Homo sapiens: one gene and its partners. The protein of the gene in region 1 interacts with the protein of each later gene in a biochemical or structural test. Each region holds a gene or a part of one and is shown on either strand. Other genes may lie near its edges.

What was found.
Region 2: the proteins of SOX9 (region 1) and MAF form a complex in vitro, tested with the Homo sapiens proteins (one study listed by BioGRID).
Region 3: the proteins of SOX9 (region 1) and NFIX form a complex in vitro, tested with the Homo sapiens proteins (one study listed by BioGRID).
Region 4: the proteins of SOX9 (region 1) and HNF1B form a complex in vitro, tested with the Homo sapiens proteins (one study listed by BioGRID).

What each region holds. Positions count from the first base shown.
Region 1 is NC_000017.11:72,124,012-72,126,946, forward strand, and holds the end of SOX9 (transcription factor SOX-9), read left to right. Parts: coding exon 1-376; 3' UTR 377-2,405; downstream 2,406-2,935. UniProt on the Homo sapiens protein: Transcription factor that plays a key role in chondrocytes differentiation and skeletal development.
Region 2 is NC_000016.10:79,597,709-79,604,836, forward strand, and holds the start of MAF (transcription factor Maf), read right to left. Parts: upstream 3,030-7,128; 5' UTR 2,195-3,029; coding exon 1,077-2,194; coding exon of another isoform or gene 1,073-1,076; exon of another isoform or gene 1-1,072.
Region 3 is NC_000019.10:13,075,438-13,082,475, reverse strand, and holds part of NFIX (nuclear factor 1 X-type), read right to left. Parts: intron 6,942-7,038; coding exon 6,805-6,941; intron 3,864-6,804; coding exon 3,741-3,863; intron 797-3,740; coding exon 621-796; intron 1-620.
Region 4 is NC_000017.11:37,700,037-37,707,074, forward strand, and holds part of HNF1B (hepatocyte nuclear factor 1-beta), read right to left. Parts: exon of another isoform or gene 5,014-7,038; coding exon 4,881-5,013; exon of another isoform or gene 4,704-4,880; intron 2,861-4,703; exon of another isoform or gene 2,789-2,860; intron 1,142-2,788; coding exon 947-1,141; intron 1-946. UniProt on the Homo sapiens protein: Transcription factor that binds to the inverted palindrome 5'-GTTAATNATTAAC-3'. Binds to the FPC element in the cAMP regulatory unit of the PLAU gene. Transcriptional activity is increased by coactivator PCBD1.

The DNA of each region.
Region 1 (2,935 bases):
GAGCAGCGAGCCGGGCCAGTCCCAGCGAACGCACATCAAGACGGAGCAGCTGAGCCCCAGCCACTACAGCGAGCAGCAGCAGCACTCGCCCCAACAGATCGCCTACAGCCCCTTCAACCTCCCACACTACAGCCCCTCCTACCCGCCCATCACCCGCTCACAGTACGACTACACCGACCACCAGAACTCCAGCTCCTACTACAGCCACGCGGCAGGCCAGGGCACCGGCCTCTACTCCACCTTCACCTACATGAACCCCGCTCAGCGCCCCATGTACACCCCCATCGCCGACACCTCTGGGGTCCCTTCCATCCCGCAGACCCACAGCCCCCAGCACTGGGAACAACCCGTCTACACACAGCTCACTCGACCTTGAGGAGGCCTCCCACGAAGGGCGAAGATGGCCGAGATGATCCTAAAAATAACCGAAGAAAGAGAGGACCAACCAGAATTCCCTTTGGACATTTGTGTTTTTTTGTTTTTTTATTTTGTTTTGTTTTTTCTTCTTCTTCTTCTTCCTTAAAGACATTTAAGCTAAAGGCAACTCGTACCCAAATTTCCAAGACACAAACATGACCTATCCAAGCGCATTACCCACTTGTGGCCAATCAGTGGCCAGGCCAACCTTGGCTAAATGGAGCAGCGAAATCAACGAGAAACTGGACTTTTTAAACCCTCTTCAGAGCAAGCGTGGAGGATGATGGAGAATCGTGTGATCAGTGTGCTAAATCTCTCTGCCTGTTTGGACTTTGTAATTATTTTTTTAGCAGTAATTAAAGAAAAAAGTCCTCTGTGAGGAATATTCTCTATTTTAAATATTTTTAGTATGTACTGTGTATGATTCATTACCATTTTGAGGGGATTTATACATATTTTTAGATAAAATTAAATGCTCTTATTTTTCCAACAGCTAAACTACTCTTAGTTGAACAGTGTGCCCTAGCTTTTCTTGCAACCAGAGTATTTTTGTACAGATTTGCTTTCTCTTACAAAAAGAAAAAAAAAATCCTGTTGTATTAACATTTAAAAACAGAATTGTGTTATGTGATCAGTTTTGGGGGTTAACTTTGCTTAATTCCTCAGGCTTTGCGATTTAAGGAGGAGCTGCCTTAAAAAAAAATAAAGGCCTTATTTTGCAATTATGGGAGTAAACAATAGTCTAGAGAAGCATTTGGTAAGCTTTATCATATATATATTTTTTAAAGAAGAGAAAAACACCTTGAGCCTTAAAACGGTGCTGCTGGGAAACATTTGCACTCTTTTAGTGCATTTCCTCCTGCCTTTGCTTGTTCACTGCAGTCTTAAGAAAGAGGTAAAAGGCAAGCAAAGGAGATGAAATCTGTTCTGGGAATGTTTCAGCAGCCAATAAGTGCCCGAGCACACTGCCCCCGGTTGCCTGCCTGGGCCCCATGTGGAAGGCAGATGCCTGCTCGCTCTGTCACCTGTGCCTCTCAGAACACCAGCAGTTAACCTTCAAGACATTCCACTTGCTAAAATTATTTATTTTGTAAGGAGAGGTTTTAATTAAAACAAAAAAAAATTCTTTTTTTTTTTTTTTTCCAATTTTACCTTCTTTAAAATAGGTTGTTGGAGCTTTCCTCAAAGGGTATGGTCATCTGTTGTTAAATTATGTTCTTAACTGTAACCAGTTTTTTTTTATTTATCTCTTTAATCTTTTTTTATTATTAAAAGCAAGTTTCTTTGTATTCCTCACCCTAGATTTGTATAAATGCCTTTTTGTCCATCCCTTTTTTCTTTGTTGTTTTTGTTGAAAACAAACTGGAAACTTGTTTCTTTTTTTGTATAAATGAGAGATTGCAAATGTAGTGTATCACTGAGTCATTTGCAGTGTTTTCTGCCACAGACCTTTGGGCTGCCTTATATTGTGTGTGTGTGTGGGTGTGTGTGTGTTTTGACACAAAAACAATGCAAGCATGTGTCATCCATATTTCTCTGCATCTTCTCTTGGAGTGAGGGAGGCTACCTGGAGGGGATCAGCCCACTGACAGACCTTAATCTTAATTACTGCTGTGGCTAGAGAGTTTGAGGATTGCTTTTTAAAAAAGACAGCAAACTTTTTTTTTTATTTAAAAAAAGATATATTAACAGTTTTAGAAGTCAGTAGAATAAAATCTTAAAGCACTCATAATATGGCATCCTTCAATTTCTGTATAAAAGCAGATCTTTTTAAAAAGATACTTCTGTAACTTAAGAAACCTGGCATTTAAATCATATTTTGTCTTTAGGTAAAAGCTTTGGTTTGTGTTCGTGTTTTGTTTGTTTCACTTGTTTCCCTCCCAGCCCCAAACCTTTTGTTCTCTCCGTGAAACTTACCTTTCCCTTTTTCTTTCTCTTTTTTTTTTTTGTATATTATTGTTTACAATAAATATACATTGCATTAAAAAGAAAGTGGCCCTGTGGATTTATTCACCCAGTTCTCCTGTTGGATGATTTGGCAAATTTGAGCACAAAAGACATTGTGGAGTGCTGATTGCTGTGATGTTTTTGTTTTTTATCAGCACCTTTGGCAATCCTAGAAAACAAGCTGAGGAAAAGACTGTATCTCCAAAAATCTAGGCAGAAAAATCTTGAAAAGTGCCACTCCAATAGATCACACAGAAAATTACATGTCAGTAGTTGCTCACTCTGGCAAAAATGTTTGTTGTGGTTTTCATGACCTCATGCTTCAGGGCAAAAGCTGTCCCTTGTGGAGGTCACAGGGAATATTAGACCTGAAATCAGGAGCTTGTCAGTAGACAGAATGCCAGAGGGGTGACTTGCTTATCTGGTTTTAATATGGCAAACTTTCCGTTCCTATGAACACATACCCAAGAAATGGAGTATCCACTTAAAAAGCAAAGGAAGCCAGAGAAAATCAGTGTCTACAGGGAACCAGAGAGAAGCCTGTCGTATTAACCCATTAAATGATTCAGAG
Region 2 (7,128 bases), on another chromosome or scaffold:
TGCCATGCTATAAGTCTTCGAACGTCCATTTCCAAGCCAAAAGGAAAAAAAAAGGAAAAAATAATTATACCATACATGTCCAGCATGCAGGCTTTTTTTTTTTATTAATATAATGTCTCTTTTCCATAAAGTCTTTGAAACAGTTATAGTTCATTGTTGCTAAGACAAAGTAGCAAGCATAATAATGCATGAGATGAGAATGAGTTTTTTTAATGGCAGACTAAACTCTCAGATTTGGCATCACAAGGCCAAAACTCACAAGTCACACCCAGAAGGTTGATGCAGGCTTGATTGTGGAAGGTTCATGAGGATTTTTTTCTCTATTTTAGCATAACAATGCTAAAAAAAAAACCCGATGGAACTCGGCACGCTGCAAGTCTATAACATTTCACATTTTTTTTTCCTTTGCAAGCTCAATCTCACATGAAGAACTCAGGAGAAGAAAAAAAAACTTTGCTTTTTTTTTTCTTTCATCTCGGAAGAGATGGGTTGAGAAGGAGTGAGGGTGGAGGTTGGAAAAAAGGTGGGCAACACAGCAAGCTCTAAAAGTAAAATTAAAAAAAAAAATCCAAACAAAATAAAACACACACACACACAGAAAATGAACACCAGTTCATGAACTGAAGGGGAAGAAGAAGAAAAAATATGTGAATGATGCAGGCTTCAAAGGTGATCAACGTTTCACATGAAGAACTCTGCTGAGATCATTGAACATTGTGCAAGTCCGGGGGTGGGGCGGGGGGGTGTAAAAAAAAAAAAAAAACAAGCTAGCAAGTTATGGAGAATTTCAGATTGGCAATCCATGAGCCAGACACCCATTCCCTCCCCAGTTTAAAACAGCCACCACCACCACAAACTCGAGCAGGGTGTGGGGTGTGTGTGTGTGTGTGTGTGTGTGTGTGGTGTGTGCGTGCGGGTTTGTGTGTGTGTAGGGGGCCAAGGGGGCCAAACTCGGTGGGGGTGGGGGTGGTGAGGTGGTGGCGAGCATGGCTCTAGAACTAGCAAGCCCACACCCGAGCCGGACCCCCGCGGAGCACTTATCAGGGTGGCTAGCTGGAATCGCGTGTCAGACTCACATGAAAAACTCGGGAGAGGACGGGTTGTCGCTGCTCGAGCCGTTTTCTCGGAAGCCGCTGCTCACCAACTTCTCGTATTTCTCCTTGTACGCGTCCCTCTCGCGCACCAGCCTGGAGATCTCCTGCTTGAGGTGGTCGACTTGCTGCAGCAGCTGGTTCTTCTCCGACTCCAGGACGTGTCTCTGCTGCACCCTCTTGAAGCGGCAGGACTGGGCATAGCCGCGGTTTTTCAGGGTCCGCCTCTTCTGCTTCAGCCGGATCACCTCCTCCTTGCTGACCCCGCGCAGCTGCCGGTTCAGCTCGCGCACAGACATGGTCACCAGCTGCTCGTCGGAGAAGCGGTCGTCGAAGTGCAGGCCGCCGGCGGCGTGGTGCGGGTGCAGGGCGCCCCCCGCCCCCGCCGCGCCCCCGCCGCCTCCGCCGCCGCCGCCGCCGCCGCCGCCCCCAGCGCTGGCCGGGCCACCGCCGCCCGCGCCCCCAGCGCCACCGGCCGAGGCGGCCGCGCTGCCCGCGGCGCCGGGCGCGCCGGCCGTCGGGTGGTGGTGGTGGCCGGCGGCGTGGTGGTGGTGGTGGTGGTAGTGCGGGCCCGCGCCGCTCTGCGCGGCGGCCGCGGCGATCACGGCGGACACCACGGCGGCGGCGGGGCCCATCTCCTCGCCGCTGCCGCCCAAGGAGGCGCCGGCACCGGCCCCGGCCGCCGCGGCCAGCTGCTGCGCCCCGCGCGCGTAGCCATCGAAGCCGCCCTGGAGCTGGTGGCTGTTGCTGATGAGCGCCTCGACCGCGTCCTCGGGGCTGAAGCCCAGCGCCTCGGGGTTCAGCTGCTGCGGGTAGCCGGTCATCCAGTAGTAGTCTTCCAGGTGCGCCTTCTGCTCGCTGCCCGAGCCCGGGCTGGGCGCCGAGAAGCTGGGGGAAGGGGGCACCGAGCTGCACGGCGTGCTCATGGGGGTGGAGGACAGCGAGCCCCCGGCGATGAGACGGCCGCACTGGCTGATGATGCGGTCGGTCTCCACCGGTTCCTTTTTCACTTCAAACTTCATCAGATCGAAGTCATTAACATATTCCATGGCCAGGGGACTGGTGGGCAGGTCGGAGTTGCTCATTGCCAGTTCTGATGCCATTCTCCTGCCGCCGCCGCCGCCGCCGCCGCCGCTCCGCCAGATGGGCTGCAGGAGAGGGGCCAGCGGGCTGTGCTGGGTGGCCAGCGGGTGAGCCAGCTTGCCGGGCTGGGGCGCTTCTAGCTTGCGCGGCGGTGGCTGGCCCGAAACCTCCGAGCGCGCTCACACACACACCCCCCCGCCCTGCCCGCGCCCCCCGCGCCCGCCCTCCCTCCCCCCTGCTCACGCCAATGTGCTCCCTCGCTCGCCCCGGCCCCTCCTTGCTCGCTCGCCTCCTTGCGCGCCGAGCCGGCGGCTTCAGGCTCGGGAAGATCCTCCGCGAGCTGCGGTGGCGGCGGTGGTGGCTGCGGCGGCGAAGCTGGAGGAGCCCGGCCCGGTGCGCGGCGTCCCCCGCTCGCCGCTCCGCTGCGCGCTTTGCATAAGGAAGGGCTCGCCTCGCCGGCCCGGGCTGCAGGCAGGGCGCGCGCGGCGTCCGCTCGGGGCTGGAGGCGCGGCGGGCGTCTGTCCGGGCGGCGCGGGCCTTGGCACGGGGGAGTTAACACTTCATGCTTCTCGCCTCCTCTTCTGCTTGGCTCTCTTTATTATTTTTTTTCTTTCCTCTCTCTCCCTCGCGCGCTCTCTACCTCTGTGCAAAGTGCAAGGCAGAGGTGCAGCCCGACTGGAGGAGAGGGAGGGGGGAGTTTAGTTCTTTCTTGCCTTTTTTTAAAAAAGCAAAATAGCGAAGTCCTGGGGAAAGACGAGGCAGAGAGCAAAGGGGGGAGGGGGAGGCCAAGCCGACAAGCAGCCCGAGCTACAGCTAGAAGATGAAAAAAGATTTTAAAGCCTCTGATCCAGCAAGAAGAGTTTAAAGCAATTGCTGAGTTTTATAGCACTCGTGACGTCAGGTCCAAATGAGAAATTGACTGGCACTCCGGGCCAATGGGAGGCGGCGAGAGCGGCCGCGATTAGCATAATAGTATAGAAACAAGGAAACTTTTCGGAGCTGTCAATCAGGGCCCAATCAGCTGACTGTCAGCTGGGACGGGCTGGCTTAACCCTTCCTGCGCCGCTGCCTACCCGGGAGGGAACGAGGCCCGGCGCAAAGTTTGGTGTAAGAGGGGAAGGAGTTTTTCCAGAGGGGCTTCGGCAATCCGGGCGGACCTGGGAGGGCGGTTTGCTTTTCTTTGGAGCGCGAGACAGGCCTCCCATCCGGAGCCCCAGCTCGCTGGGGGCTCACTCGGCTGGGATTGGCCTGATTCCCCTCCCCTGCCTGCCCTCCACCCCCAGGATTGTGAATTCGCCTCCCAGCTTTTCCTCCTCGCACCAACTCTGGTACCCAGGTGTCTGCCGGGGACCTTCCTTCCCTGAGCCTGGCCGTGCCCGGCGCTCAAACTTGGCCCCAACTCTTTGTCCGTCTCTCGGGCGCCCGTGCGGGGAAGGGACCGGGAAGGGAGGGATGCAGTGGGGTGTCCGGATCGGGGCTGCGGGCTGGGCGCCGCCCGGCCATGCGCCTGCCCAGAAGGCTGGGCATCCGTGGAGAGGGAAAGCCCATTTTATCCCTCTCTTTACAACGAGGTAAAATAAGTTGTTTAGAGGCCATTCTTCACGGAGACCGGCTGCCCGCTGGCGTCGCGTGCCCTTGGACAGAGCGAGCGCCTATGCGAGATAACTCCGGGGAAGCTCAAAGTCAGGTCAGCCGGGCTCAGCCTTCCGGCTCCTGACTGGCCGGAGTTTGGCCTTTGAGACTCATATTGCGCGCTCGCTCTCTCTCTCTCTTACACACACACACACAAACACACACACACTCACACTCACCCGTCCCCTTACGAAATCTGACCTCTGTTTATCAGGGTCAGGCGCGCCCTTTGCACTTTTACGTTTCCTTTAATTATTTCGGACTTGATCGTGGCAGGGAGCAAGGGGGAAAAACAATACCCCAGCCCTCACCAGCTACCCTCGAAGGGTTAAATTTTAAACCGCGGTTTCTGGAACTAGTCCGGAAACGCAGAGTGGGGGGTGGGGTGGGGGAGGCTGCTCCCCCCACCCCCAGTTGCAAATGCTAATAAGTAGTTCAAATTTCTAGATTGATTCTCTAAAAGTTTATGCAAAAAAGAAATAAAAAAGAAAAAGAAAAAAGAAGGAAACCAACAACTAACTCTGTTTCTAAGATTTTAAAGCGATAGGCAAGTCGAAGAAGCAGAGATTTATTTGGAGAGAAAGCTCCTGAAACCGACCCAGCCTTTGGAAGACCAGCCCGTCTGCTTAGAAGTTGGGACTGTTGATTCCTTCAATTAATGAAATGCATTTGGTGTTTTTAATCGTATTTATTTTACTTTATGAGAAGGGGGAGACGCTAGGAGGGTGCATTAAAAAAAAAAAAAAATTCTGAAAAGCCTGCAAAAGGATCGAAGAGTGGAAACTATTGTTGGAGCGAGTTGGTTTTTACCTCAACAGCGCCACCTTTCGGCAAAGGTCAGTTGAAATTGATCCGTGTCCAGTTTTGTCGATGAAGTGAAAAGCAGCTGGTTACCCAGTGTGGGAGGAGGAAAGAGACACACAAAGTTAGTTTGACTGAAGTGGGAGAACCCGACCCTATAGGAAAGGGGCCGAAGAAAGTGCTGGCAGATGCAGAGATCATTTTTGCCCCTCCTCTTCTCCTTGATTGTTGACAAAGAGGCCAGGGGATACAGACACCCTCGGGGTGTAATTTCTGGCTGAGACCTTTGCAAGAGGATCCCCATGTAACAGGGCCCCAAACCCTTTAAAAGTGCCAGGATGGATTTTCAACGGGCTTTATGGCAATATCAATAGGATTAAAGTTACTTGTAATTCAGTGATAAATGAGATGTCTCTAGTAAGTAAGATTAAGTGCAGTGCTATAAAGTTGTTTATCTGGAAAGTAATTCTCAGAAAACCTGACTTCTGACACTTAGTCATATATTAAGCCAGCGTCTTGAACATTGCACTTCAGAATGGTCTTCCCCACCCCGCAGCATGCTTTGCTATTTATAACCTCAGGTGTCTCTCACTCGTTCCTTGCACCATATTAGACCTGTGTTAATTTCTCTGATCCTAGTAGACTTCAGTTTCAGCAAACCCAGGAATCCTTAATGGAAGACTTCCCAAAAGATTCGTAGGCACACCCTAATCTGAAAAGGGCAGCGCTGTCGGTATTTTTCAGACAAGTAGTGTTTCTTTTCATCGTGACTGCAGAGAAGTTGTTAATAAGGGTAGTTTTGGTCTTATAAGAGCATTTTGTTGGGTGGAATAAACTATGTCTATTACCAGTTTGGGGAAGAAAGAGTGAAGATTATGTCAATATTTATGCAACCTAGCAGAATTCCCTTGCTTTCCTTCTCTTTAACAATATTTTCCCTAGTAATGAAGTTAAGGGATTATAGTTTATTTAGAGGAAAATCCACACTTTCCATTACATAAGCATTATGTCATTTAACATTGCCCGTAACAATAGTTTTCTAGGTCTTTTTAAAAGTCAGTAGTCACAAATGTAGGAAGTTTATATTTTTCATGTAAAATATGAATTTAAGTGTATTTAGAAAGAATTTATTGTTTGTTTATGATATACTTTTAATCCTTTTGCATCATATTTGTGTTAAAAGCTGTAAGGTATGATCATTGCCTCTGAAAGCAGTATTATAATAAATAATAAATAATATTTTATACACAAAGTTTGCTAATGATGAAGACTGTGCCATACACATTCATGGCTGAGTATCTAATTGTTACATTGTTATATATCATTTCTAGAAATTAAATGCCCATGTTTGGGCAGCTAAATATATTATTATCTGCACATTTTTATGGTTTATTTATGTACACTGCTGTGAAGACATGGTATTTTTATTTCTCTTATTGCAAGGTCTTTTATAGTCGCCCATTTTCTCTTGGAAAAAAAAAAGAGAGGATCAGAATTATTTTTTTAGATGTGTAGCAGTAATGCTCTCAGGCTTATAACTTAATTCTCATTTTTATCCTTTTTACATTATTATTTAGTGATTCACAGGGGTGTCTAAACATTTACAGTTCTCTGTTAGCAGCATTTCTTTTATAACAATTGAGCTCTCTCATTTTAATGAGTACTATTCAGGTTTTTGATTCTGTACAATTACAGTGGGCCACATGTCTTTAGACTTCTTTGCTAACATTGTTTGTTTCACTTCTATCCAAGCCAATCTAATCCAAATACAATGTGAACTGTGTTTTCTTACTGCTTAACATCCCCTTGCTATATATACTCTAGTAATCTCTGTAGAACAATATACAGTAATTTAGAAACCATGCATTTGTCATTATTGACCAATTCGGACCAGTAGTATTAAAGTTTTTGAAAGCAATGAATATTTATAGGAGATTTGTGAGGGGGAGGAGGACATGGGTTACATCGCATAGAATATTGTGACACAGTAACATCAGAAACACAATTATAGTTTCACGTCAGTACATACATAATGACTTCATGCAAAAATGAAAAACAAAACCCCTGTTCATGTCCAAATTACAAAGATTAAAAGCTTAAAGGAATATATTTTCCCCGATTGTGAGTTATAGCAACTCAAATATATCATGTTGGAATCAGACATCCATAATCTGAATAGAATGGGATGCATCAGGTATGGTGTCTGGACTCTTTGTTTAGGGGCTGATTTTATGGGGCAGAACTAACCAGTGTCCACTAAATTTCACTATGAAACCAACTAAATTGATTTGAGAAAGAGTTCTTCAGAGTAACTGAACGATAAGGCGTACACTGTTCTTAGGTCCAGTGTTAGATAAATCCTTTTAACAGTCTTCAGTTAGCAGGGTAAGTAAATCACAAATCACTGTTAGCAGATTCATGGAAGAAAATTAATAGAATCAGACGAGATAATCTGATAAGGGCAAAATTGCTGAGGAAACAGTCTTGCCTCATGTTGGAGGATGTGAAACAACAGTCTGAT
Region 3 (7,038 bases), on another chromosome or scaffold:
TGTGGATCGGGGCTTTCCCTTGACACAGTGCTCCTCACTAGGGATGGTCTTCCCCTCCTGGGCACACTGAAATCTGGAGACTTTTTTTTATTATCAAGACTGGGGAGGAGGAGGTGCTCCTGGCATCTAGCAGGTGGAGGCCAGGGATATTGCTCAACATCCTACAGAGCACTGGATGGTCTCACACAATAGTGAATAAACAGCCCCAAATGTCAACAGTGCTGATACTGGGGAAACCCTGGTCTAGAATCTAGCAAATCCTTGCAGCCCCGAGGTTTAAGAGGAGCGCTGGGAGGTCAGGGCCCAGATCCGGGTTGGATCATCATGAGTTCACTCCTGCTGAGGGGGCAAGGACCATGGGAAAGGCAAGGAGCCTGACTGAGCAAGGGGGCCCAGATGCTGCCCCCACCTCTCCGGACCATGATAGACAAGCCCTGGCATAATACACAGACCCCCGTCCCCAGACCCAGAAAATCGAGGCGTTTGGTACTACCAGCTCCCTGCTGCTCCAGCCCCAGGTGGGCTCCTGGCTTTTGGGCCCTCTCCCTGTGAGCCCTGAGACAGACAGATAGATGTGGAGATGAGGCTGTAGCCGGGCTCCTGGGGCCCTCTGGACTCACCTGTCCGGTGGCCTGGCCCGAGCCATCCGAGCACACAAACTGCACAAACTCCTTCAGTGAGTCCTGCCCGTGGTGGTGGTGGTAGCGGATGGTCGGGTGCGTGAAATACGGGCTCGACTGCTGGATGATGGACGTGGAGGGGAAGTGCAGGGCTGATGCTGTGGCCCGGGGGCTCCCTGCATGCACGTGGGCAGGGAAAAAAGGGCGTCAGGGCCAAGGAGGCAGCCAGTGGGAGGGACAGGAGAGGAGGGGAGCTGCCGGTCAGAGGGTCCTGAGGATCCTGAGCAGGTAAGGCAGCCGCCACAGGCACAAAAGTTAAGGCGGCACAAAAAAGTCAGTCATCAGGATCCATGATGTTTTAATGCAATACAAAAATAATAATAATAATAATAATCAAATAGGCAAACTAGGGTCCAAAGGCCAGCCATTTGTTTTTGTAAATAAAGTTTGATCACAACCAGCGCTGGGAGATTAGGATGAGGCAGATGAGGCAGGGTAGGATCTTGTCTTTATTTTATTTGGCTTTTTAAAAAAGTGTTATTATTATTATTTGAGACAGGGTCTCGCTCTGTCATCCAGACTGGAGTGCAGTGGCACAAACACGGATCACGGCAAGCAATCCTCCTGGGCTCATGCAATCCTCCCACCTCAGCCCCCCAAGTAACCAGCACTACAGGTGCACGCCACCAGGCCTGGTAGATTTTTGCTTTTTTTTTTTTCTAGAGATGAGATTTTGCCATATTGTCCTGGTTAATCTCAAACTCCTGGGCTCAAGTGATCTGCCTGCCTTGGCCTCCCAAAGTGCTGGGATTACAGGCATGAGCCACTGTGCCCAGCCTAAAGAATTTTTTTTTTTGAGACTGAGTCTCGCTCTCTCACCCAGGCTGGAGTGCAGTGGTGCGATCTCAGCTCACTGCAAGCTCTGCCTCCCGGGTTCACGCCATTCTCCTGCCTCAGCCTCCCGAGTAGCTGGGACTACAGGCGCCCACCACCACGCCCGGCTAATTTTTTGTATTTTTAGTAGAGACAGGGTTTCACCGTGTTAGCCAGAATGGTCTCGATCTCCTGACCTTGTGATCCGCCCACCTCAGCCTCCCAAAGTGCTGGGATTACAGGCGTGAGACACCGCGCCCAGCCAGTATCTGTTAAATAGAGACAGGATCTCGCCCTGTCATCCAGGCTGTAGTGCAGTGGCATGATCACAGCTCGCTGCAGCCTCGAACTCCTGGCCTCAAGCAGTCTTCCTGCCTTGGCCTCCCAAAGTACAGGGATTACAAGCATGAGCCACTGTGCCCAGCCTCAACATTTTAAACCATTTTAAACAAAGACATGGCTGAGTGCTGTGGCTCATACCTGTAATCCCAGTGCTTTGGGAGGCCAAGGTGGGAGGATCACTTGATCCAGGAGTTGGAGGTCAGCCTGGGAAACATAACAAGACCCCGTCTCTACAACAAACATTTAAAAATTAGCCAGGGTGGCACACAGGAGGGATCACTTGAGTCTGGGAGTTCAAGGCTTCAGTGAGCTATAATCGTGCCACTGCATTCAGCCTGAGTAATAGAGCAGGAAACTGTCTTTGAAAAAAGAAAAAGAAAAACAAACAAAAAAACTGGTGTTTGCTTACCATACCCTTTTTTTTGCAATAGTTTGGATTTTAAAACATATTCCATTAAAATATTATTTATCTTGATGACTGAGTTTTTGATACTTGCTGACACTCTGCACCTAAGGTGAGTGCCTCACTAGCCCTGCCTTAATTCAGGCCCTGGGTGGGAGACTGGGTGGGGGACAAGAGGAGGCAGAGGGTTCCCTGGGGCTCTGGATGAAGACAAAGCCAGCATCTGCTCAGGATGGCCGTCTGACATATGCACACACATCTCCTGAGTGCGAGCTGGTGTGCACCCAGCCACCGCCACCTAGGCGGTGTTCTCATGTGCTCAGCCTCATCACTCACACACGTGTCCTCACATACGCGTCCTTGCACACGCAATTCCCAACCCAGAGCAGGCCCCAGCTCTTCCTCCTCCCGTCTGTTTCCAATCAGCTCGCTCTTGCTCTCGGTTTCATTAGGGGGCTGAGGAAACTTGGCTTCTCTCTGGAGTTCATAAAAGCTGAGGTGGAGCCGGAGGAGCCAGGCCTGCGCCCTCCTGCTGCCTGTGTAGAGGGCCTGGGCTCCCCACCCCCACCTCGCGGCCACCACACCCTGCCCCAGCACCGGCTGCCTCTGGGCTCCCAGCCAGGAGGCCCCAAGGAGGAAGCCAGGAGGTAAACCTCCTCATTTTCTGTGTCCTACATACGAGCCCAGGAGATGGCAGGCGGACATAGGGCCATATCCAGAAAAAGTCCAGGCCTCTTGCTGCCAGGTGGGTGCCCAGAGAGGGAAGAAGAAAGTGAAGGAGTGACAGGGCTGAGGTCTCAGCTCCCACAGCCTCCTGCCTGATCCTATCTCCTCAGGGCGATCTAGGTGTTCTCATCCTGAGCACCTTCTCAACTGGGACACTGAAGTCAGAGAGCAGCCCCACGGCAGTGGGCAGTTCCTTTTCCTGGGGAGCAGCCCAGGTACCACCTGTCCCCTAGACCCAGCCCTTCCTTTCTAGAAAGCGGCAGGGAGGCCCAGACAAGGTAGCTACTTGCCGCAGGAGCCTGGGCTCCTTAGGAGTACTCTTCTCCATCCAGGCCCCACATCAACCTGGGCTCATGCTGGCAAAAATCCAGAGCCTGGGCTCAGCCAGGAGCTGGGAGAGAGGAGCCGGCAGGAAGGCAGAGCAGAAGGCTGTGCCTTCCCGCTCACAGCTGGCAGGACAAAAGGAGAACTGGGCCAGAGTTGGGGAGGACTCGGGACAGGCTTGTGTTGTATGTAGCACCCATGCACGTGAGGAGTGAGAAGTGGGAGGTTGCTCAGGAGCCAGGTGGGCAGCCCAGGGGCCCGGCCTGGTCCTCGATGAGGTGCTACGTGAAGCAGGGGCCGGCTCCCATGCCCACCCGCTGCTGCACCTTGGCCCACTTGGAGAGCGTGGGGCTGTCACTCGGGGTCAGCTCTGGCCCCTTCACCTGGCCAGCTGCCCCTAGATACTCAGCCACCTCCCCAACTGCCCCCCTCCGGGGCCCCCCATTTCTCACCTGGTCTGACTCCAGCAAGCACAGGCAGCGGGTGGTGGGTGAAAGCCATGCGCGGGGAGCTGCCCTGAGAGGAGAGGGCACTGCAGAAGTCCAGCTTTCCTGACTTCTTTAGAGAAGCCGGGCCTGGGGGGAGGAAGCAGCAACACAGGGCAGGTTTAGCTGGGCTGGGGTGGGTGCGGGGAAGGCGGGAAGCCAGCAGCTCGCTCCTTCTCTCCTCAGCCCCTCCCCACTGCCCCTTCCTCCACTGTGCTCCCTCCTGCTGCTCCTTGCCCAGTCCCAGGCCTTGTTCTAGGCCTGGTTCCGAGGCCCTGTGTGTAGGCCAGCCAAGGGGTGCTTCTAACCAGAGAGGAAAACGAGGCCCCTGGGTAATGTGGGGTGGTGTGTGCCAGGCAGGGGGTGAGCAAGGGCCCCAGCCTATGCCCTGGCAAGCAGGTAATGAAGTGAAAGGGTGGGATGCAGGACCAACATTGGGAAAGGAGTGCAGGAGGAACCCCAGGGCGCCAGCTTGAGAGCCGGGAAGGGGTAAGTTTGGGAGGGACAGGCTGGGGTCTATGCCATGGTGCCCGGGGCCATGGGAGGTTCTGGTGGGAAGAAGCCAGGGCCCCGTTTAGGGAAGGGAGCACACAGCCATGAGCCCTCAGGAGGGACACAATGCCCAGCGAGAGAGCAGGGACAGAGGCCAGAGGACCTGGAGAGTCCTTGGGCTGCTCAGGCCTAGCCGGGCTGTGCAGGCAGAGCCAGAGGGGAGAAGACTCCCCCAGCCAGGGGACCCAGAAGCTCAGCTGCCATAGGATGGATAATTTCAGGGCTCTGCCCTGCTTCTGGTGCCAGAGGTGTGGGTGGCATTCAGCATGAAACAAGGGCACAGAGAACACCTTGTTTGAAGTCTGTCTTTAGAAATTCATCTCTGCCCAGTGGCCATAGCATCCAAATGACAAAGCAGGGCCCCCAGGGGGCCAGGTTCTTCTGGAAAGATCAGCTCCCATCTTGGGCTGAGCTTTAAGGTTGTGCCCAGGCTGGGAAGGATAAGGTAGAGTTGGGGCAGATCTCACAGCTGCCACCCTTGGAGGACAAATCAAGTCAGTTTGGGTGAGGGGTGGAGGGGCTGCAGAACAGAGAAATAAAGAGCCATCTTAACTGCAGAGGGAAGGGGCGGGGGAAGGGCGAACTCCCAGCCGCCAGCGGAGGTGTTATCTGGCAGCAGCTGTGTGCCACCTGATAGCTGGCACAGTGGGGAGGGGGGAGCATCCTACCAGCTGTGCACAGCTGTCCCCATGGCCGCACAGTGCCTCCCCAGCTGTTCCCTGTCCTGCAGCTGGGCTGCTTAATTGGCAATTTGTTGCAGCCCATGAAAACAACACACAGCGGGGTGAGGGGAAAAGGGAGCCGGAGGGTGCTGCAGGAGGATGTTGAGGGGCCGTGCGTGGCAGGACTGCCGGAAGGAGCAGAAATGCAGAAATGGCAGGCGCAAAAGCAGACAGCCAAGAAAGGAGAGAGCAGGAGCCAGGAAGAGGGGGGCTCCTCAGGAATTAGGTCTGGGCACAGGAGCCCAGGAGCCCTTGCCCCAGGAGCCAGCTGCAGACACAGTCCTCTATGCACCCCAGGGGCAGTCCTTGCAGAAGGGGTCACCTACTGAGGCCCCGGCCAGGGACCCAGGATGTAGCCCAAGAGTCTCCCGGGCCTTCTCAACTCCTCTCTCTGCCTCTCAAGGCTCCCCTAGGGAAGCATGTGGCCCATGCTGGCCCAAGTCCCTGCCTGCCACGAGGAGAGCCTGGGAGGGGCCCCAGAGTCACGCAAGGAAGCCTTCTCACAGAGGCCAGCCTCTGCTGGCCATCTAGAGGGTCTCCAGCCCACTCCCTCAGCCTGAGGCCTGGAGGCGAGCCCTCCTTTCCTCCTCCCAGGAGGAGGAGAAGCTGCCAGAACTTGCATTCGTTCTGGGGCAGCAGAAAAGCAGGAGTGCTTCCCAGCCCCACCTCGCTCCACCCCAGACTCTGCCTGCCCACTTGGCCCTTCCCAGTAGGGGCATATCTGGAAAACATCAGACAAAGTACCATTAGGTCAGACCCTCACCTTTTGGAGGAGGAGAATGATGCCCAGGGCCCAGGCCTGTCCAGAGCAGCCATGCCCTGTGCACAACCCACACGCGTGAGTCTGCACTCCCAGGCCCTGTCACACCCACAGTGAGGATAAACACGGGCTGTACCACTGGCACGTCAGCGGGGGACTCTTGCGGCCAGCCTCCTCACACACATGTGCTCATGCACATGCACACACACACACGCACGTGTTACATGCTGTCTTCCAGAGTCCTCTCTAGGTCTGTCTGCACCCTCAGTCAAGAATGGAGGTGAAGGGGGGTGGGTTCAACAAGAAGAAGATCCCTAGAGGAGACTGGGAAGGTCTGAGCTGGCTTCCTCTGTACTCTCTCCCCTTCGCTAGCTTCCCTACCTGGTCTCAAAAGGACTCTGCTCATTCTTCACTAGACTCTGAGCCTCTCTCTGTGAAGCTGGGCCCTTGAGACCAGTGGTTCTCATCCTGGGAGGATTCCATCCCACTAGGGAACGTCTGACAATGTCTGGAGGCGTTTTTGGTCATCAAAACTGGGGGTGGGGGTTTTGCTGCTGGCATCTTGTAGGTGGAGGCCAGGGATGCTGCTAAACATCCTGCCATGCACAGAACAATCCCCTACACAGAATGATGAGCCCCCAGGGTGAGAAACTGCTTTCAACCATGAGGCCACGGGGTGGGGCAACCTCTAGAGAAATACCAGGAGGGGCTGCGGCCATCCCACTGTGGGGCACCAGAGGCTTGGCACCCCCTCTGCTTCCCACCGCCATACCACGGGCTCTGCTGCTGACTCTCACAGCACCCCTCCTCACCCTCACCTCCACTCCCTTCCTTCAGCCTGCTCTGCCCTCCCTGGAAGATCAGGAGGCAAGAAAACAGATGGGTAATGCCCCCCGACAGGGGGACAACTGGTGGGAGGCTCACCAGGTGAACTGAGAAGGGGACAAAAAGACTCTGGGCTGCCCTTGCTCTGGGTCAGGATCCCCCGCACCCATACCTGCATCCACATCGTTGGGCCACCCGCTGGACTGGCTGCTGCCAGCTGCTGGGGAACGGCCTGTCCCGGGATAGAACACGTCATCAACAGGGCTCTCCATCTCACTGTCATCGATGGACTTGGGGCGCTTGGTGGTGCTGGGGAAGAAAGAAAGGGTCACATGGGCCAAGGATGGGCTGAGGCTCCAGGGAGTGACCAAGAGTCCAGGCTAAAGAACTGTGCATAGATGGCCCT
Region 4 (7,038 bases), about 34 Mb from region 1:
CATACTATTTCCATTTTATGGATGTAGAGATTGGACTTAGAGTGGCTAAGTAACTTGCATTAGGCTACACAGCTGGTAAGTATCACAGCCAGGATTTAAATCCAGGTCTGTCTGATCTAAGACTAGTGCTTTATACTGAACACTTCCTTGGGGTTTCTGAAGCAGAGAAGCCACGATTCCTCCCCAAACTCCTGTGTCAGGGGCTATAGCCAGACCTGGCCAGAGGATTGGAAGCCTGGGACTCAGGATGAAAGGCAGAGAAACAGAGGATGGGATTGGATGGGAAATAAGTGGTCGAAAGGTAGGCTTGGGGTAGGTATAGAAATTGGATATGAGAAACAGTCTGTGTGCAGAGATGCAGGGGTGGCATGGAGGAAGAAACTCTAATGCCCAGGATGGCATGCCACTGGTATTTTTCACTTGTGTTCATGGTTCTTGATTAGAGATGTTTGGGGTGTATAAATTGGAGGACACGGGACTCTAGAAGATTCTTCTCTTTTAGGGAAGGCAAACAGGATGCAAATTAGATGCCAATTGTGATCATTTGATAATGGCTGCTTGGAAGTTTAGATTGCAAAGGCTAAGTTGAAGTTCACTGGGAAAAGGTGCTGGTGGTTTATGGACGCGATCTTTTCCAGAGGTGTTGGAATGGGAAATTGGCGGTGTGTGTTCCACATGCTGTCTGGCTCCAATTCCCCTTCATCTGTAGGCCTACACTGTCCTCTTCAAACCCTTCCCTGGGAATCTCAGGGGTAGAGAAGAGGACTAGAAAAGGTACAGCAACACTCAAGAGTTATGCTTGAGAAATTGTCTTAGTCGGTTGATCATAGGCAGGGAAAAGTGACCAAGCCAATAAACTTCCGAGAAAGTTCAGACCCAGAGAGGGAAAGTGGTTGGCCACTGAGGGTCCTGAGTGCTCCCTCCCTCCACATGCCCGTGTCCTTACTGTGTGAGTTCTGCAGCTGAGTCACAGCTGCCATGAAGGGCTGCTGGGCCATGTGGCTGCCTGGGCTCTGCTGCATGAGGGGCTGCTGGTGAGGGCTGTGCAGCTGCTGGGAGAACTGGACGGGCTGCAGGGCTGCCAGGCTGCCGGCCACACTGTTGATGACAGGGACACTCTGTGCTTGGGAGGTGTTGAGGCCTGTGGGAGCAAGAGGAAAAGATCACAGACAGCTCCTGGGATAAGGAGAGGTGGATGGATGCCATCATTTGAGCCCCCGCTCAATGTCCCAGTCACCGGGCTGAGCCTGTTACATAGGAGATTCCATGGGAGGCAAGTGTAAAGAAACGGAGACTTGGAGATATTAATTTACTTGCTCAAGTTCCACAATGAGTTGTGGGTTGGAGATGGGCATTAAACAGATCTGATTAAAGCCTGAGAGTCTCCCAGAGTCATCCTGTGACCTCCCAAACTTAGCTCTCTTGAGGTTACCAGGGCTTTGGAAAAGCTGGCTCTACCTGCCCACTCCATCCATGCCAGGCTGTGAGAGAGGCTTGCCCTGGTGCCCGCAGGGCAGAGTTAAAGATGTCCACACTGAGGCACAGGTTATTGCCCAGATCGGTCTGTCCAGTAGAGGGCAGGAGTGTGCAGGGACCCAAATTTTGACTAAAAACAACTTCCATAGTCCCGGGAGTATGAGGTTGGGAGACCCTTATTTAGTAGACTGTACAAAGACCCCCAGAGAAATCAGGTGCCAACTCCCTTGACTGTAACAGAGAGGGGAGAAAACACTGGAACTCAGCCAGTCTGCGAGGCGGGCATATCTTATGTGGCAGCATAGGGCTTGTGGCACTAAAAGGACCAGGTTTTAGAAAGAGGAAGTAGTACATTAAAGGTTGACTCTTGGCATTTATAGTGGGTCTTCCCATCTTTCTGTTCTGGAGATGTCAGGGCCTCTGTAACTTGGAACTGTGTATCCTGAGGCCTCTTTAGAACCCGGGCCAGCACTCTGAGGATTGGATCCCCTGGTACCCATGCTCTATCTCCTCCCTGAGAGCGACACGGAGGAAGACAGCTAAGGTAGGATCGGAGTGGGGACAGGACGATCAGGAGAGAAGACACCTGGACCTGCTTCCTGGGGTCGATTGTGTTCCTGTGTTCTTGCTTTCTGGGAAGTTGGGGGAAGAATGGGATGAAGAAGGAATCCAGAAAAAGGTCTGTTTTAGGTGGATGTGGAAGGGACACCTAGAGAGGCTTTCCTGAAATGGAGACGGTTTCATAGGCAGGTTTGAGGGAAGTCATCAATGGAGATAACACGGAGTCCTCAACAATTGCCTACTCAGAGCTTTAGCTGATACTGTTATCAGAAACCTAAAAGGCGAGACCCCTGAGCAGAAAGGACAGGGGATGAATCCTGCTTCTGGCTCTCCTGGGTGGGGGCTGGGGGTGCCACCCTCTGATCACCCTCAGAACAGCACTGTCTCCAGTTCCCCAGGGGGCTCAGCGTCTCCTCAAGCCAGCATCTCACCAGATACCCTGATGACCGATGACCGTGTTTCCCTTTCCTACCTCCTGCTTATGGTCTCAGTCTCCCAGAAAGCTCCATGAATGTGCCGTTTTTGAGAAATCTTTGAGAGCACTGCTGCTGCTCTTTTTGAGAAACTGCTGCCCAAAAAAGCAAATGATCCTGTCTAGAGTGGATGACATTTGAAGGCATAGTTCTGAAACCTGCATGTGCTTCAGAAATCATCTGGGGGAGCTCTTTAACAAATATACATTCCTGGGCCCCACCCAAGACCTAATGAGTCAGAACCTTCAGAGGTGGGGCCCAGGAATCTTATTTTCAATGCAGTCTGTGATCCTGATGTGCCTCAATTCCAGGATTGAGAGCCTCTGATGTCATTCCAGCTCCCTCAGTGGGTAAGTCTTGACCTTTTCATCTGTTTCTGTTTCTGGGCACTGGTTCTTGCTTGGGAAGTATGCTATCCAGTCCAGGGAAGAGATGAGAAAGAGAATAGGATGAAGAGGTGAGAATGAGTAGAGAATAAGGAATTGGCCCTGCCAAATAATTTGTTACCACCTTCTCCACAGGCTTCCGCAATTCTGAGGCAGGGCCCATGGTACTCAACACATCAGTCAGTTAAATGAAGATGCCTGCAACCAGTTTCTCATCCTAACACTCCATAGTGTAGGACCTCTGTGTCTCAGCAGTCTTCTGGTGATTCTCACCATTTCTCATGCTCTGTCTACCCCAAGTGTACACAGATATGTACACACACAGCCATCCTTCTGAGGTCAGTGTGCACTCTGGTGCAGCCCATCTGAATAGGAGATTAAGGAGCATCGTGAAATGATAGAGAAATATGAGTAGAGGAAATTAGAAAGAACAAAATGGAAAGATGCAGACTAGCCCCAGGGAAAATTTTAATTCAGATAGTATATATATATATATAACTGTATGGCAGTGAAAGCTTAGAATGGAAAGAAAGAAGTTAAGTGGGACAGTTTGTTTATTATTTTGGTTGCAGAAATAAGTGGAATATCTTCCCCACGGGCCTTTTAATCAAATCTTCTAAATGGCAAACAAGCTGGTTTTAGGTATCTTATCTCATTCCAAACTCTGGTATTAGTATAATTACCATATTCCATATACCAGAGGGCCCAGTCAAAAGGCAATACATTTAAAATGATCATTTATATTGTGAGTTCTCTAAATGCTTCCCCATTCCCATTTTCCTTCTGCCAAAATCAATGCACTGTGTGTCAATTTCCAAGCAGCTAAGGATAGAGTGAGAGCCACACATATTCAATAAATTTGTGTGCCTCCAATGGGCTTAGCCCTGTTCTGACCTCAAAGGATGTGTAAGTCATTCTCTTCAGAAGTGAGAATCCAAGTTCCGACCCTAGCTAAAGCTGATTTAGGGAGAGAAGAGGGAAGAAAGAAAAAGGCAGAAACAAAACAAAGAGGTGGCCAACATGAGCCCTAGATACAAGGAAGGTAAGAGGACAATGGAGCAATACAAGGTTGAAAGAAAGATGACCAATGTGTTACCCTTAGATCTCTCCCAAGACATCCAGCAATACATCCAAGGGTCACAAGGATGGTTTTGAGAAACAACGACACCTGAGCTGTCATAGTGAAGCTGGAAATATGCTGAATACTCATCAACATTAAAACTCTCAAAGAGATATCCACAACCACAGTTCCCTTCAGCCTTCTCATGCCTCAAGATGGCCCATGTATGGGAGGGCACAGGCTTGCTGTTGAATATGAGCCTCCTGGAGCTGGAGGGACCTGATCCATCTCCGTGTCTTCAGGCGTGTGATGTGCCAAAGCAAGCTTTTTCTCCTTAAAGTTTTCAAAGCTCTCAGATACAATGGCAGTTTCCCTCTGGATCCTCCCTTGGTGTATTTTCACTGCTGGCCAAGGAGATTTCATATACCACACAAAACTCCCCATTTAGAAGGAAACCTGTCATTCTTACTTCATCATCACCAAACAGAAAGAACCTCCTGAAAAATCTACCACCTACTTAGTGATAGGAATGAACTCAAGACAAAGTGTAAGCTACGATGTTATACATATTCATGCTTTAGAGATTTATAAGCATGTTCATATTCACTGTCAGTTGATCACTTTAACAACCTATTTTATAGATGAGGACATTGAATCTCCTGAAGGTTCAATGATTTGACCCAGGATGCACAGCTGCTAAACTGTGACCAGGATCCAAATCCATTCCACAATTTTCTCTTGTTTTAGGCTAAACAATCCAAATATTGGATTTAAGGAGACAGATGAGAAACTAAAGAAGTTAAACCAAATCTACTAGTCGTGGGTGAGTTTGAAGGAGACCTACAGTTATTTTTCACCACATTAATTTGCTTCCCATTCTTCTTCTCCCTGCCCCCAAGTTTTCCAACCAAGAATAGAACTTACTTTGTGCAATTGCCATGACTCCAGAGAGGGGTGTCATGATGAGGTTTTGAGATTGCTGGGGATTATGGTGGGAGAGGCTGTGGATATTCGTCAAGGTGCTGACTGGGGGCAAACCTCCTCCTGAGACTGAGATCTGATGGAGAGAAAAAAACAAGAGAAACATGGGTGGACTTGGACCACAAAGAGCAGTTTCCAACACGATGTGACTTAGCGATTCCTTGGCATGACTAGTTCTCAAATTCATTCCTTCATTCACTCAATAACAATTATTGGCTGGGCATGGTGCTTCACCCCTGTAATCCCAGCACTTTGGGAAGCCAAGACAGGAGGACTGCCTGAGCTCAGGAGTTCAAGACCAGCCTGGGCAACATGGTGAAATCATCTCTACAAAAAAAGAAAAAAACACAATTATTAAGTGTCTACTGTGGGACAGACACTATTCTAGGTGCTGGGGATAGAGCAGTAAGTAAAACAGACAGTGATCCCTGCCCTCATGGTGCATCTATTGTTGACTGTCTGAGTTACTAGCCAGCTTCAGAAATTACTAAGGGTTGGGGGAGATTAGCCATTACAAGGTTTCTCTACTTTTTCCACATCTCCAGTACACATTACAAAATTTTTTTTCTTTTTTGGTCAAGGATCCTATATTGTAATCACCATTATATTTTAATGACAGATTAGTATGAGAAAGCTACTGATTTTGGTGTATTTACTTTGTACATGACCACTTCACTGAATCCTACTAGTGTCTTTTCCTCATTGATTTTTTTCCAAGTATGTAATTGTAATACAAGCATCTGATGGTAACAGGGTCTTTTCCTTGCTAGTACTGATATGTCTACATGTCCTATTATATTGCTTAGAACTTACAGTATTAAACAATAACAGCTGTAATAGATGTGCTTATTTTGCTTCTGATGTTATCAGAAATGTTTCCAATGTTTTCCCATTAACTCTAATTGTAATTATAAGGGCGCGATCAGTTTTAAACACACCTACACTTTTTCCATGATACATTAGTTTACTACTTATAGTTTCAAAATAATTTTTTTCTTTTTTTGAGGTGGAGTCCAGCTCTGTTGCCCAGGCTGGAGTGCAGTGGCATGATCTCTGCTCACTGCAACCTCCGCCTTGTGGGTTCAAGCAATTCTCCTGCCTCAGCCTCCCGAGTGGATGGAACCACAGGCACCTACCACCACGCCTGGCTGATTTTTGTATTTTTAGTAGAGACGGGATTTCACTATGTTGACCAGGCTGGTCTTGAACTCCTGACCTCAGGTTATGTGCCCACCTCAGCCTCCCAAAGTGCTGGGATTACAGGTGTGAGCCACTGTGCCCAGCCTCAAAATAATTTTTAAAGTTATTATGAAGAAAGGACTGGCCCCTCTTATTCTGAACCCAGGCGTGCTTGAGAGCATCAGGAACCCCGAGAGGTGCTTTAGGGTTAGGATGCACCAGATGTCTGAGTAACTCAACTTTCCTTCTTCCATCTTTCACTTCCCAGAGCTTTTCAGACGATAGCTCTCCCACCAGCACCCAGGTAAGATGCTATCTCCCACCCTGCCCTTCCGGTCAACTCCATAGTGTCCAAGGTTAATTTGAAAAAGAAAGAAAGCAAAAACCAAACAGGTTTGTTTGTGTTTTTAAAATAAGCATCAAGAAATGTTAGGGGGTCACATGACCAAGAAGGAATTCTGACCACATCAAACAAGAGAGAAGCAGCCTGTTTGCTGGACTTGTTTTTCAAAATACCAGTCATTAAAAAAAAAAAAAAAAAAATCCGTAGCCTGCCCTCAGACTGAATCTCTTGGGTAATGTAGTTCCTTTGGAGAAAGTCAACCAAGTGACAGTAATTTCTCTGACATTTCAGCATTTGGTTAATGGTATAAGAGAAGTGTGGAGGCCAATGATAAAAATAATTTAAATGTGTGTGACTTTAGGATTTGTAAAGTGCTTTCACTGATTGTCCTTAATAGATAATGACACAAGTAGGGCAGGCATTATTACTATCAGTCCCTGTATTACAGATTAAGAAACTGATCTTCAGAAGAGTTGAGACTATTTCTATGTCACTTGACTCATAAGTGAAAAAGCCAGAGTTAAAATCCAGTTTTGCTGGAGCTTAAATCTTATTCACTTACTAAGTTTGGGCAACCTT